2 separate regions of the Homo sapiens genome follow, and region 2 is linked to region 1. The links come from fine-mapping of genetic effects on gene expression. Tissue or cell type: whole blood. Region 1 holds a variant in brackets; the other region holds the start of a gene. All regions are shown on one strand. Distances are between the middles of the regions.

Region 1 (8,107 bases):
AAAACCCTGTCTCAAAAATAAATAAATAAAAATAAAATAAAATATTCCCATTATGAAAACCTCTGATCAAAAAAGTCTTGTCTTGAAACTAAGGCACTGAAACATTGCTTGATTTGCTGTTGAGGTTATCTTAAGCTTTTTATATACTTGACCTAAAATATTTTTATTTATTTACTTGGTTCATATATGAACTTGACTTCCTAGAAGCACATGAGTGCTTTCTAAGGCTCAGCGTCAGCAGTAGAGGAGCATATTGGATGTTCATCCAAAATGTACCTTTTCATGAAATCAAAAGGTAGAAAGTCTTATTTTTTGTATTAGTAATAGTACTAATGCTCTTTCAGTTCCACTTTGTAGTTGTACAAGGGGTTTCACATGAACTTATCTCCAAACTTAAGCTTGCATCAGAATCACCTGGAGGGCTTGGTAAAACACAAATTGCTACCCACAGTCCCCAGAGTTTCTGATTCTGTAAGTCTAGGATGTGGCTGGAGAATTTGCATTTCTAACAAGTTCCTAGATGATGCTGATGATGATGGCCTAAGGACCCTACCTTAATTAAAGTATTCCTCTGAGGCAGATTGGGCAAGTCATCGTCCACATTTTATAGCATAACAAACTAGAGAATCAAAATGCTGAAGTGATTTGCACAAGGCTACATGGCTTGATGGTAGAACTGAAACTAGAACAAGCATTTCTTGTCTCTGAATCCAGAGCTCCTGTAGTGCTGCACTCACAATCCTGATACACACATCTTTGTATACATATGTAAACATTTCTTTAGATAAATTTCTAGCGGTGGAATTGCTGGACCTAATGTTGTATATATGTTAAAAATTTGATACATATAGCCAAATTGCTTTCTAAAAAGACTTTACCAATTTGTTCTTTTTTTTTTTTTTTTTCAGACAGAGTCTCACTCTATCGCCCAGGCTGGAGTACAGTGGCACGATCTCAACTCACTGCAACCTCTGCCTCCCAGGTTCAAGCAATTCTGCCTCAGCCTCCTGAGTAGCTGGGATTACAGGTGCCCGCCACCACGCCCAGCTAATTTTTGTATTTTTAGTACAGACGGGGTTTCACCATGTTTGGTCAGGCTGGTCTCGAACCCCTGACCTCGTGATCCACCTGCCTCGGCCTCCCAAAGTGCTGGGAGTACAGACGTGAGGCACCGCACCTGGCCACCAATTTGCTCTTAACCAGCAGTGTGTAGGCATATCTTTCCCTATATCTTCACCAACCCCAATAATAACATTAATAGCAGATAAGCCGGGCGCAGTGGCTCACACCTATAATCCCAGCACTTTGGGAGGCTGAGGTTGGGGGTATCACCTGAGGTCAGGAGTTCGAGACCAGCCTGGACAACATGGTGAAACCCCATCTCTACAAAAATACAAAAATTAGCTGGGCATGATGGTGGGTGCCTGTAATCCCACCTACTCGGGAGGCTGAGGAGGGAGAATCGCTTGAACCCAGGAGGCAGAGGTTGCCGTGAGCCAAGTTCATGCTGTTGCACTCCAGCCCGGGTGACTGAGCAAGACTCCGTCTCAAAAAATTTAAAAAAGGCAGATAATTTTTTACTGAACATTTACTATCTAAGGGACACTGTTTTGAGCAGTGGATATATTATTTCATTCTCTCTTCTTAACAACTTTATGAGTTAGATATTATCCTCAATTACAGAAGAGAGGCACAGAGAGGTTAACTTGTCTGAGATTATCCAGCCAGGATGCATACACAGGCAGTCAGACTCCAGAGTCCCTGCTCTTAAATACCTCTCTATTTACAATTCCCCTTATTGCTATGGAGGTGTAGCATCTTTTTATGTGTAACTGATCTTTTTGGTTTTTTTTTTTTCTGTGATTTGAGTGTGCTTCTGACCATTTTTCTATTGATATTTGGCTTTTTTCTTTTTTATGTTCTCTATATATTCTGAGTATGTGGCAAAAATACTTTCTCCTAGCCTATTGCTTGACTTTTAACTTTGCGTCCCATATAAAAGTTTTACATTTTTATATAGTCAAATCTGTTGTATTTTATCTTATGATTTCAAGATTTTGCATGTTGCTTTTTAAAAACCTCTTGCCATTCATCCTCAGGATTCTCAAAGTGTTATTTTATATTTTTTCTGGCATGTTTACATTTTTAAATATTTAACTCTTTAAAACATCTGGAATTTATTTTTATTTATAGTGTGAGGGAAAAATCTAGCTTAACCTTTTTTTTCCAATTGGATAGTTATTCTAATACCAAATTTACCATTATTTACATTCTTACTTCACTAATTTGAAATGCTACATATATATTAAATTCTTACAGATGCTTGGAGTACACTTCTGTACTCTTAAGTTCTGTTCATGTTTTTCTGTTCATATGCCAGTACTCATTTTACTTATTACACCTTTAGTAGACAAATGTATGCCAGTGCTTTACCTCCTTGTTGGTATTTTTCAGTGTCCTAACTATTTTTATTTTATTTTCCAGATAAATCTTAGAATCAGCTTATCAATTTTCACTTTTAAAAATTGTATTAGGATTTTGATTGAAATTTTACTGAATTAATTTTGGAGAAAATTAACAGTTTTACAAAATGAGCCTGCCCAATGAAGAATGTGATGTATGGATCTATTATTCACTGTTTTTTAAATATTCTTCATTTAAATTGTACAGTTTTCCTTATATGGTAATCACACATTTCTTATTAGGTATATTCATGGGCATTTTATAAGGTTTTTGTTGCTCTTGTGAATAAGCTCCACTTTCCCATGACGTTTTCTAATTAGTTACAGCAGGTGGGTGATAAAACTATCACTTTTGATATTTGCTTTTATATCAGACCACCTTGCTAAAACTCTTACTTGGTTCTAATATCTAGTATATGTTTTTACTTGATTTTATTGACTTTTCTTCATGGATGATTATATTATCTGTAAATGAATTTTATCTCTCTGAGTGCAGTTATGCACCACATAACAACATTTTGGTCAATAACAGACCACAGATACAGAAGTGGTCCCATAAGATTATAATGGGGATGAAAAATCACCTAGTGACTATAGCTGTCATAATGTCGTAGCATAATGTATTACTCATGTGTTTGTGGTGATGCTGGTGCAAACAAACCTGCATTGTTGTATAAAAATATAGTGCATACAGT[T/G]ATGTACAGTACATAATGCTTGATAATAAGCGACTGCGTTGCTGGTTTATGTATTTACTGTATTGAACATTTTATCAGTATTGTAGAGTGGACTCTCTTTCTTTGTTTTTTTTTCTTTTTTTTTGAGACAGGAGTTACGCTCTTGTTGCCCAGGCTGCATTGCAATTGCACAATCTCAGCTCACTGCAACCTCCACCTCCTGGGTTCAAATGATTCTCTTGCCTCAGCCTCCCAAGTAGCTGGGATTAGAGGCATGCACCACCACACCTGGCTACTTTTGTATTTTTAGTAGAGATGGGGTTTCACTATGTTGATCAGGCTGGTCTCGAACTCTGGACCTCAGGTGATCCACCCGCCTCGGCCTCCCAGAGTGCTGGGATTACAGGCATGAGCCACTGCGCCTGGCCTACAGTGTACTCTCTACTTTGAAGAAAATATTAACTGTAAAGCTGCCTCAGGCAGGTCCTTCAGGAAGTATTCTAAAAGAAGGCATTGTTATCATAGGAGATGACAGCTCCATATATGTTATTGCCCTTGAAGACCTTCCAGTGTGGCAAGATATGGAGATGGAAAACAATGATCTTGATGATCCTGACTCTTTAGGCCTAAGCTAGCGTGTGTGTTTGTGTCTTTAACAAAAAAGTTTCAAGAGTAAAAAAAAATACTTTTTTTTTTTTTTTTGTATTTTTGGTAGAGATGGGGTTTCACCGTGTTGACCAGGATGGTCTCAATCTCTTGACCTGGTGATCTGCCCGCCTCAGCTTCCCAAAGTGCTGAGATTACAGGCATGAGCCACCACACCCGGCCAAAAAAATACATTTTAAAAATAGAAAAGCTTATGGAATAAAGGTATAGCCATGCACAGTAGCTTGTGCCTGTAATCCCAGCTACTCTGGGGGCTGAGGCAGGAGGATCACTTGAACCCAGGAGTTTGAGGCTGCAGTGAGCCATGATTGTGCCACTGCAGCCTGGGCAACAGAGGAGATGCTGTCTCTTAGAAGAAGAAGGAGGAGGAGCATATAAAGAAAATATTTTTGTATATTTGTACAATTTTTCTGTTTTTTATTTTTATTTATTTAAAAAAAAATTTTTTTTTTTTTTTGAGACAGAGTCTCACTCAGTTGCCCATGCTGGAGTGCAGTAGCATGATCTCGGCTCGCTGCCACCTCCACCTCCTGTGTTCAAGTGATTCTCCTGCCTCAGCCTTCCAAGTAGCTGGGATTACAGGTGCGTGCCACCACGCCTGGCTAATTTGTATATTTTGTGGTAGAGATGGGGTTTCGCCATGTTGGCCAGGCTGATCTCGAACTCCTGACCTCAAGTGATCCACCCACCTTGGCCTCCCAAAGTGCTGGGATTACAGGCATGAGCCACCCCTCCCGGCCAGTTTTTCTGTGTTTTAAGCTAAGTATTATTACAAAAGAGCCAAAAAGTTAAAATAATTATAAAGTTTATAAAGTTAAAAAGTTACTGTAAGATAAAGTTATTGTTGAAAAAAGAGAACATTTGGCTGGGTGCAATGGCTCAACACCTGTAATCCCAGCACTTCGGGAGGCCAAGGTGAGCAGATCACTTGAGGTCTAGCCTCAAGTTTGAGACAAGCCTGGCCAACATGGTGAAACCTCGCCTCTACTAAAAATTCAAAAATTAATCGGGCGTGGTGGCGGGCACCTGTAATCTCAGCTACTCAGGAGACTGAGGCAGGAGAATCTCTTGAGCCCAGGAGGCAGAGATTGCAGTGAGCCGAGATCATGCCACTGTACTCCAGCCTGGCAACAGAGTAAGACTCCATCTCAAAAAACAAACAAGAAAAAATAAGTTTTTAAAATAAATTTAGTGTAGCCTAAGTGTATGGTGTTTATAAAGTCCACAGTAGTTACAGTCATGTCCTAGGTCTTCACATTCACTCGCCACTCCCTCACTGACTCACCCAGAGCAACTTCCAGTCCTGCAAGCTCCATTGATTGTAAGTGCCCCTTACAGGTGTACCACTTTTTATCTTCTATACCACATTTTTACTGTGCCTTTTCTATGCGTAGATATGTTTAGAGATACAAATACTTAACATTATGTTACAGTTGGCCTACAGTATTCAGTATAGTAACATGCTGTACAGGTTTTCCACCTATATGGTTATCCCATATAGCCAGCCAAGGTGTGTAGTAGGCTGTACCATCTAGGTTTGTGTAAGTATACTCTATGATGTTCACGCAATGATAAACTTGCCTAATGATGAATTTCTCAGAATGTATTCCTGTCATTAAGTGATGCATGACTGTATTTATAACTCTCATTGCTTTGGTTAGGCCTTCTAATGTTAAGTAGTGCGATACTAGTGGGCTTGTGTGAAAAGAAGGCTTCTTATGTGTTGTAAATGAGTATACTGTGTGGTGTAGGTTCTGGCACAGATCATTTATCAAGCTGAGGCCATTTCTTACTATTGCTAATTTACAAAGATTTTTCAGTTAGGTATAGTTGAATTTTACTGACTGCTTTTTTATATCTACGGAATAATATTTTCCCCTTTACTGCTAATGTAATGACACATTGAATTATTGAAGTTGAATCATCCTTACATAACTGAACTACACCCTTTTTGCGTTATTCATTTAACATATTGCTAGGCTTGGTTTACAAATATTTAAGGTTTTGCATTTAGGGATCTAAATATTTATTGAATCTTTGCTGTCTTCGTCCAGCTTATGTCTGATTTACAGAATGATTTGGGTAGTTTTTCATTTTTTTCTGTGCTCTGAAACAGCTCTGTAGTAGGATTATCTGTATTTTAAAGCTTAGAACCAAGAAGTTTTATTCCAAGTATTTTTTATTTTATGAATTTTTTTTACCACTCACATTTTTAAATTTCCATGTTTGCATTGAATAAATATAATTATCATCTGTGATGCTCTTAAAATCTAGATCTTGTCTTCTACAGAAATGGGCAAGCATAACTGAATAATTGATAATTGAGTAATTGAAACCAGGCATTCATTTATGGTTTAAGGGCTTTTTTTTTCTCTTTTTGGTGGATAAAGAGACTAATATTAATATTTAAGAGAGGTACGAGATGCCTCTTTGATTTTAAATTAATACTGACTTTTTGTGGTTATTTTTGATCCTTAGAGAATATAGCCTTAAAATTTAGTATTTTTAAGAAAGTGATCAAATTGGTTTACATCTAGTGAATCTTCTGGGTGTTATGGCCTTCAAATGTGAAAGAACAGTTAATGATCCCCTGTCAAAGTATAAAGATGCATTTGTGTTTTTATTATTGGTGGTAACTTTCTGTGGCTTTATCCACCCTTGTGATTGTTTAAAATCAGCAGAGCAGTAATTAACCTATAACTGAGGGGTATAAAAAAAGAGCTCTCAACTTTGGCTTTCTTGGAATCATGCTTAGCCAAGTTAACTGAGAAGTAAATCTGCACAATGAAGATGAACAGGAATGGTAAGGTAGTGATGTGCTCAAGTCAAGATTTCTTTTTGATAAGTCTAGAATGGATTTCTTTTTTTTTCTAAACTACTACTATTTGCCTTTGTGCTCACCTATATTTACTCCTGAAATTGGAAAGTGTCTCTAGACTTAACACTGATAAACACTGCCCAAAGCCAAATAACTAAAGATGTTGTCAGTCTCTGTTTCCAAGAGCTGTTGGGTCTCGCAATAATAGAGAGGCTGAAACTGCTGTAGATCATCTTGCTCCCATCTGCTCTTGGGTCCTTCCAGTAAATGGGAGTCCTCTTAATCTACCATATGTTAAACTGCCTTGGGGCTAAAGAACAGTGATGTAGATGTTATCACACAATTTCTGAATCTTTCACATACTTTACAATTTCTAAGGTGGAAAGAAAAAATCAGTATCCTATTTTTAGTTAGGGTTAGAGTTAGCTTTGCATCGTTGAATGATACAGGATGGTTGCTGTATAACTAACATAATTAAGTTTACCTTAAAGAAATATGCTAAGAACATCAAGGCCTTTTTAGGTGTTCCTGTAATTTGGAAAGGGTGTAGCCAGTAATTTATAAATAGATTGTTCTTGTTGCACACCAAAGGGCAAATCTGGGCTCACCCTTTTTGCATGTTGTGTGAATTTAACAACTTGTGTTTTCTGCATTAATCTATTTTTAGAGGGGTATAACCCCTCTTTTAGTAATTCGAGGGATTTGGCTTAGTTACACTTGGTAAAGCTACAAAATCCAGAGGTTTGAATCACTCCTAAATAAAGAGAAGCCTCAGTATTAGCCAATTATAAGCTTTCTTTAAAAGTTGTAACAATTTAGGTTTCCAGGGTAGAAGAAGTAGAATTATTTGATTTTTTTTGGTAATGAACTAAACTATTTAAATTGTTGTATATGTTTGTTTGAGGATGGTACCTGCCTCATTTCAGGACATTTTGGATATCACGTGAGATAATTATTCACAAGAAATAACAATAAAAATTCCAGTTATGGTTGTTACTTTTATCATCTGTACTTAATATTTATCCATCAAAATTTACATGGATATTCGTGATCCATAACAGGATATTTCAAGTCCTGAGCGTTCTAATTGTGGACTTTATATTGATTGTCTTCTGTAGTGACTGCGGAAAAGTTTATGCTACATATGGCTTTATCTGTTTGCAACTTAAGCAACACTTTAAGCATACTTCATCACCCCAGCAAAAAGCTGGTCAGGTTTATGAGCTTGGCATCTTATTGGTGCATTTTTGTCTCTGCTGTTCTCTGAATTTTGTGTCATAAAAACCAGTTAGTCTCCATGAGGGCTAAATTGAATGAGAGTTTTTTTCCTCTGATTTTAAATAAATATCACTTACAACAGAGCTCTTGGGAGATGCCATTTCTTCAGGACTCTCCTCTGACCCACGTCCCTTTTAAGTTACTCTTTCTCTTAATGTTAATATACACAGTTCTCATGAACATCAAAAGTTTTAATTTCCCATAATTGT
Region 2 (8,107 bases), 180 kb before region 1:
AAAAATACAACCAAGTGAAGGCAACACATGACTCAATAATACTGCAGTTGCTCTCAGCTCTTATATATCTGTGCTATATTAATTTATACTTATAATTATGCCCAAATTGTTTCAAATATAAGGGATTGGATTATCAAGGATAGGACCATGATTTCTTGTGTCTTTTTTTTTGACTCACTTTTTTTTTGCTCTGTCTTAAGCTTAGCTATATAAGTCATAATCTTTTAAGTGAAATACTTCATTTGGTATGCAATGAATGAGTTATAGATATATTGCAAGATAGGGATCTATTCAGCCTGAGGAGTTACTTAAAATAACTGGAGTGGTTGATAAATCTAGGTAATTCACTCCTGGCAAGAAGCAGTGTGATCTAGAGATTCTCAGCAGCCCCCCAAAATCAGGGTGTGAATACCCACCCTAGTATGCCCATGGTCCCACTGGTGGACAGCACAATGAAGTTCTTGCCAAGCAAAGCCAAGGAGTATTCTACCACCAGGTCATCACTTTCACAAGACAATTGTAGTACACACTGCTGCCTATTGTAAACACTGAGCTTTGGAGGATGTTCCAGGTACCAAAAGAGCAGGACTTACAGCCTCAGATAAGGCCAGGAAATGCAGGGAGGCCTGCTAGGTACTCCTGATGAACTCAGCTTATGATCTCTCTTTTTATATATATAGCATTCTTCCTTTTGTTTATATCTGATGCGCCCTTTTAATTATGTTCAAGTTAGATGAAGAATTATTGATCTAATAACACAATCTAACTCTGCAAATTAGACCTTTATCAATATTTTGCAATAGATACTTGACACAAAAAGTGTTTGGGTAGATGGGGAAATTCCCATTGGCAAATGTAACGAGGAAATACCCTGTGATAATGTGGATATATTATCAATTATAATTTATACTTTTAAATTTTGAATTGTTGTGAAAATTGTTTAAAAGTTTTTTTATCACCTACTTGTATGAACTAAATTCTCATCAATAATGACTACCAAGAATTTGAAGACATCACTGTTAAACTGTCTCATTCAAGAACTGCAAGCCGTCATTTCAATCATAAAATCCTGTATAAAAAATGTTATGTTTACAGAAGCAATCTCAGGTTTTTCATTAAATTTTTAGACATCTTTGTTTGGAAATGTATACAAATTCAATATTTAGTGTCATCCTTAATATGTTTATTTTTGTCATTAAAAGTAAGTAATATAAAGAAACAATTTTTTTCACCAAGCCCCATGTAATTAGCTGCCTCCAAATCCCCTTTAATTTATCCCAGTGTGCTGTACAAATACTATTTCTATGGATGTCATGATGTGGAAAAAAAAGGTAGAGAACCACCCCTTTAACATTTAGATCAGGATTCTTCACCTTGGTTCCTTGATAGGTTTTAGTAGGTATGAGAAATATGCAAGTACATTTTTCTGGAGAGAAGGTCAATAGTTTTCATCAGGTTCTCAAAGCTTGAGAACCAGCTAACCTCAGAGATTTCAAGCTCCCCTATAATTTCACCCCGGAAGAAGTATTGATACAAGTTAAGGGTTAAATGGACTCCAGTGGTACAACCAGGCCTCCAGCATCGCAGGTGGGAAGAGTGAAAGTGCTCTAAGTAGAACTAGGAGGACTTTTGTCTCTTTGGCTCCCTCTTTTGGGAATCCTGCTCTTGGCCTCTCTCTCCTCAAATTCAGCTAGAATAGTAAGAGGATCCTAGGCTCTTCACTCTATTAGAAGATATCTCCTCTCTCAGTTCACCAGAAGACCTAGGAGGAACCAGGGTGGAGCCTAGGGAAATTAGGTATAAATGGGGCACAAAGCATAGATTTCATCAAATGCTTAGTGTGGTCCAGCTCCGTTCGCAAAGCGACTGTACTGGGATCTGCAGACAAAGCCTGAAAGCCAATATCATAAAGAGCACATTTGCCCAGACCTTCTCTCCTTTGTTTCTATAGAACTTTGTACGTATATAGACTTCTTCTATATTTCTACATACCTCCTTTCGCGCCTAGCCGAGGTGACAGAAGCCATGGTACCACTAAGCTACGCTCTAATTATTTGTTGATGTGTTTTCCCCTACTAATTGGCTTTGAGCCCCTAAGAGGTAGATAAACATTTGTCTTGTTCTTAAAGCAGTGTCTAGTATATGATACACATTCAATAAATATTTTCTCAATTATTAGTAAATAAATTAATGAACATGCACCAATAATTTCCAAATCTTAGTTTCCTTAAAAGGTATATACCAGGAAGAGATATTTCCCCTGAAAATTAATAAATTAACTTCCTGATACAAACAATGTGAATTTTGTCATCCCATAATTCAATTTTGATCAGGATTTTATCACCTTAGATATGTGGAACAAAAATGTTCCACACTTACCTACAGATGAAACATGTCTTGACCACTAATCTACTTCTACTATTAAGAAAAAGAATGATGGCCGGGTGCGGGGGCTCACACCTGTAATCCCAGCACTTTGTGAGGCCAAGGCAGGTGGATCATCTGGGGTCAGGAGTTCGAGACCAGCCTGACCAACATGGTGAAACCCCCATATCTACTAAAAAGACATAAAATTAGCCGGGCGTGGTGGCACATGCCTGTAATCCCAGCTACTCAGGAGGCTGAGACAGGAGAATAGCTTGAACCCGGGAGGTGGAGGTTGCAGTGAGCTGAGATGGTGCCATTGCACTCCAGCCTGGGCAACAAGAGCAAAAATCCGTGTCAAAAAAAAAAAAAAAAAAAAAAAGCCGGGCACAGTGGCTCACATCTGTAATCCTAGCACTTTGGGAGGCCGAGGTGGGCAGATCACTTGAGGACAGGAGTTCGAGACCAGCCTGGCCAATACGGTGAAACCCCGTCCCTACTAAAAATATAAAAACTAGCCGGGTGTGGTGGCGGGCCCCTGTAATCCCAGCTACTCGGGAGGCTGAGGCAGGAGAATTGCTTGAACCCGGGAGGCGGAGGTTGCAGTGAGCCGAGATTGCACCACTGCACTCCAGCCTGGGTGGCAAAGGGAGACTCCGTCTCAAAAAAAAAAAAAAAAAAAGTTATCTTAATTGCATAGAGGGCTTTATTTACAGTTTATTCTGAACTTTACCATACATTATCTCAAGAATCTTGTCAGTTAGGGTTCCATTGTAGAGATAAAGGAATTAAAGCTCAAAAAGTTCAAGCCATTTGCATAAGGTTTTAGAGCTGGAACTAGAAACCAGGTCTTCTGATTCCTATGGTAGTGCTCTTTCTCACTGCAAGGTTAATGGACTTAAGCCTTTCATCTTCCAAAAGAATTTCTGAAGAGTATGTTACCATGAAAAAGTAGAACATCATTGTTGCCCTCCCTGAGTCAGAGAATCAACATACAAGTACTAAGACCTACAGATTTGAATATTACTTTTTCTAGAATGATACTTTGGTTCATAAAGCACATATATTTCATTTATTTGAGTTCATTCAGCTTCTAGCTATGTGTATTTTTTGGCTATGTATCTAGTTTCCTCTTTGGTCTCCCATGCATTGGTTCAAAGTTCTTACTTCTGAAACTTGCCTTCTCTTTTCCTGTTTACTACGGAGCTCTGGGGAAAACACAGTCAGATTGTTTAATCTGTGAACCATACATCTTTGTTTAATTTTGTCTCACAGGCACTCCTGATCACCACCAGGGGGCAAAAGCCTACCAGCTGGCTTCTCTGCACTACACTCTACATAGGACTGTACAGTACAGGGACCCTCAGTGTCTGATTCTTGATGGAACCTCCCTGCTAATTATTTCAACCACAGGGCCCCAGGGAGAGAACAAAGGCTCAGCACAGAGGACTCTTGTGGCGTTTAACCGTACAGCAGCCAGAAAGAGCTCATGACAGCCCTGTCAGTTTAAAAGAAGCAATGAGATCCAAGAGTGTTTGAGTGACAAACAGGAGGGGGTGGGTTTTAATAACTGCAAACTCCCAAGTGTGTGTGTTTTCTACAGCTTTGATATGTACGGTGGTATTTACCAGCTCATCCACTCAAGCTGAGAAATAGCCTTGTCAACTCTCTTTCTTTGTGTAAATAATCAGTGATATTTGCATTGTGCAATTTTTTTCCTTTTTAATCTTGATTTTCCATTACATTCTTTGCTTATGTTCTGCAGACAATTTACCCCTGAGAAAACCATTCCCTTAAAATATCTTTTAATCTACATTTTTACATAGGTCTATGAAAGAATGACATTTAGAGACGAAGGAGAAGAAAGCTTAACGAGCAAATCCTGTTTAATTAAAAGACTGTCTTCACAGCAGGAGGCAAGTGAGAGGTCAATAGCAGGCTGGACCCTCACAACCGGCTTCCTCGGACTCCCAGGCGCGCTCAGCTTCTCTTCTCCTCAGGAATAATGAATAAGTCTTTAGACAGGCAATAGAGGAAGCATGAGGGTACCACAAACCTTTCCAGGGTATCAAACGGAAAATGGTTTTCTTTCCAGAAGTCTCATCATAAAACATAGACGGAAGGGGGGGAAAAGTTAAGAAAAAGCCCCCGAGAGCCGGGGTGAAGGGAGTAAACTGGTCTAGCCCAGTTCTGTCTGCGCCCAGTGAGAGGGTTTGAAACTCCGCGGAGCCCTTTCCCAATAGAAAACGTGTTTGCTTCAGGATTTTCATCTCAGCTGCTTTTTTTTAAGGTTGGTTAAGCTGTGCGCCGCCCCACCTCATAAAATGGTTGTCTCTCAGGAGTGAAGACTCCAGCGGCCCCCCGCCCTGGGACCCCTCACCGGGCTGGCTCCCTTCGGCCCCTTCCCCCACCCCACTCCACAGCACCCAGTGCTGGCAAACCGCGCGATTCCAGCACGAAGGAGGAAACCCAGGAGGGTGCGGCGGCCCGAGGCGCACGCACTCGGCCAGCTTCCGGCAACTCAAGGGTTACGACCAGGCGGCGGCGCGCGCCGAGGGGAGAGGCGGTAGCTGACAGGTGGCGCCTGCGCACTGGGAGCGCTCATTGTGCCCCGCAGCTGCGGAACCGCCCGCCCGCCGCCCGTTCGGAGCGTCAGTCGGCGACAGTCTGGTGGTGGGTGCGGAGTCTGCGGCCGTTCCCGCGGCCTCCTCCTCCTCCCCGTTCCCTTCACCCCCACCCCGCACCCCTTTCCCCATCCCGGCTCCGTCACCCTCCCGTCCCCCACACTCAGGACAAGAATGCCCTGCCCGGAACAACCCAGCAGCGCCTAGATGGCTTTGGTCACGGTCCAGCGGTCACCTACCCCCAGCACCACCTCCAGCCCCTGCGCCTCGGTGAGTCCTTCCTGGCGGCCGCTCCGCTTGCTTCTGTCACTGCGGCTCCGCTTTGCCTCAGCGGGTCCCGCCGAACGCCACTGCGCACGCGCCGCGCCGCTTCCCAGGCCTTGGCACTCGGCTGCCGCGAACCCCCCCACACCCCCATGTTAAAGACTAGCAGCAGGAACTACAAGACGTTGATTTTTGCCCCCATCACCCTGAGCACCTAGCTCCTCACAATCCTCGCCCTGAAATCCCCTGTGGCATGCCTCCCTATGGCTTGAGCACTTCCTTTTGGTAATGAGTCATTCTTGCTTTTCACCCTCCCCCTTCTTTTACCCTCTGTTGCTCTGCTGCAGGGAGGGGACCGTGAGCCTCCTGCGTTGCCCCTTACCCACACCCACATCTCTTACCCACACCATTTCATAGACCTGTTCAGTATTTGCACACTGCACACCCTTCTTCGTACTCGCCAGGGTGTGTGCCTTCCCCTAGTCACTTGCTGGCTTTCTTTTGCTCTGTACTGTTCAGGCTTTGAACTGCCCAACCGTAGTTATTCCTTGGTTTCTCCCGCCTGCCCCCCACCCCAGAGGGTAGCAATGATCTCTGTTTCCTGGACCTCTTACCTTTCCTTTATGAGGTCCCGAAGCATCTGGTGCTGCTTAGTGATCAGTGTCAAATTATTTCCGTCTTACAGATATTTATGCCTTACACTCATTGCTCGTGATCATTCTTGTTCTAAGGTCGTGTTTGTATGGCTCGTTACCTCAGATGCCTATGCCAATAAAGCATGCTCTCAGAAGGAAAATACCCAGTAACCAGCCTTTCCCCGCTGGGCCCGTCTTTGCCTTCTCTCCTCGCCCCACCCCCATTCGTTTACACTCCATTCTCTTAGGCTCCATTTTTGAAAATATTTATTTTTAAAAACAATATATTGCACCAGTGGGGCAAATGGGCTTTAAAAAACCAACATCCAGATGTTTTAGAGAGAAATAAACTGAGTGAAAATGCGAGCAACTGGGAAAACCACCTTGAACTTCCTACAGAACTGTAATTTTAAAAACGGTGTTGGTGGATTTGGTAGTATCAGGTTGCAAAAAAAGGTATTTAATAAACACTGTACCACTTTCCACTGTAAAAAAATCATCAGGTTACCCTTAATATTTGTATGTTAACTGAGGTGTGAGCTTTGATATCCTGAAATTTGCTGGCTTGTCATTTCAGTATAATTTCCTGAATTTCAAAGTTTTGTTGTGTATGGTTGTGGTTTCTTCTTTTCTGAGCTTTAATTGCATTTTGTGTGATGAAATTGACAACTATATCTTAATAAGTGATTTTATTTCAAAGGTTATATATCTTGTGTTGTTTCAGAGAGCAGAACTGGGATTCTTGGTTCAGGGAGGCAGATTTCCAGTGATTGTAAGGAAGAATTTGTAACAGTGGAGTGCACTGCCTTGCAAAATAGTGAGTGCACATTGCTGGAAATATTCAAGCAAAGGCTGGAGAACATTTTGCCTGGGAGGTGGTATAAAGAATTCCTGCAGTGGGGGACTTCTAAGACTATTTCTAATCTAAGATTTTGTGATTTGAGAATACTTGTACTTCAAAGCTGGTAAAACATTTTAGGGTCATCTGAAGACAAGTATCATAGGAATAAATCTTTAATATAATTTATTCTTATGTGTAGTACTTTATGCTAGTTTTTGGAAAGTCATTAACATACCATCAAACCTTCTTAATTCACTCCACTAGTAAACTCTTTGGTTTGTGGTTACTAGGCCTGATTTTGAAGAAATCGATTGAAAGTTAGTAGAGTCATGCAAATAAACTAGAAATCAGTACTATAGTAACATTTATTTTCCTTGGGCACTGTTGAAAATAGCTTATGCTATGATAATATATGTATATCAAGTTGTCATCATACTAATTTACTTGAAGTGAATGATTAGTATACAGTAAGACCGTGTACACTTGATATGACTTCATTAGCCAAAACTTGAGTTACTTTAGAATCTTGAGGTATGTTAATAGTCACTTTTGACATAGGTAATTAAATTGATCATGTAATAAGCTCAGTTGTTGAGCAAAATCACTAATATTTCTATATCTACTAGCCTGGTTATTTCAGTTGTTTATACTTGGCCCTGAATGCAAAGGAATCCTAAGGCTGGTGTAACAATCAGCATCATTAGTATAACTGATAAGCCAGCTTCCTTTCTCTTTAAATTGTCTTCCTATTGGACTTCATCCAGAATTGTGTTCAGCTGAGTTGTTTCGAGGTCCTTGTACTCTAGCATTTGGCTGCTGTCTGACCTCCATATATTTTGCTGTTCTATCTCTTGCTGTATGAATAGGTTGGGTTGTTTGTTTTAAAATAGAGAGCAAAAAGAACCTAGAGGACCATGAAAGAAGAGATTTAATTTTGTGAGACTGGAAATTTACATTTTTTTATTAATCACTTTAAGTACGCTGTTAATACTTTTACACTATAGGATGCAGGGCATTTTAATACTGCCAGCTCTTTAGTGTTGTTTCATTAGGCATTAAACAATATGCTAGGTGTGAGTGACCATTGTAGATACTAAGATGTATAGGAAATTGACCTGTTCATCAGGATCTTGCAATCTGGGGGGCTGGGGCATTGGAGGAAGAACAAACATAAGGTAAGAGGGAAAAGAAGAAGAAGGGGAATGATACTGTAGGTACCTGAAGAGTTTGTGATGGTCATAAGTATTGTCTGAATTCAGATTAAGATAAGTTCACTAATGGCAATGTTAATAATAAGAGTATAACAATATCTAACATTTCTTGGGTCCTCATCTATGCCAGGCATCATGTTAAGCGCTTTACATGAATTAATTCATTTA

Evidence for each region. PIP is the estimated chance that this variant, and not a neighbour inherited with it, causes the effect.
Region 2: SSH2 starts here. The variant in region 1 is fine-mapped to the expression of SSH2 in whole blood (INTERVAL, PIP above 0.99).

What each region holds. Positions count from the first base shown.
Region 1 is chr17:29,746,591-29,754,697 of GRCh38, reverse strand. The region is part of intron 3 of SSH2 (slingshot protein phosphatase 2); the gene reads left to right. Among named protein-coding and RNA genes, the nearest start is that of SSH2-AS1, 110 kb to the right of the region's middle. The variant T/G (reference allele first, on the strand shown) is at 3,158.
Region 2 is chr17:29,927,089-29,935,195 of GRCh38, reverse strand. SSH2 (slingshot protein phosphatase 2) reads left to right here and starts at 4,968. Exons shown (of 16, transcript NM_001282129.2): 1 at 4,968-5,258. The coding sequence starts at 5,196. It also overlaps a transcript of EFCAB5 not described here. RefSeq lists silencers at 1,531-1,825, 3,786-3,955, 4,689-4,778, 4,929-5,208, 5,719-5,768.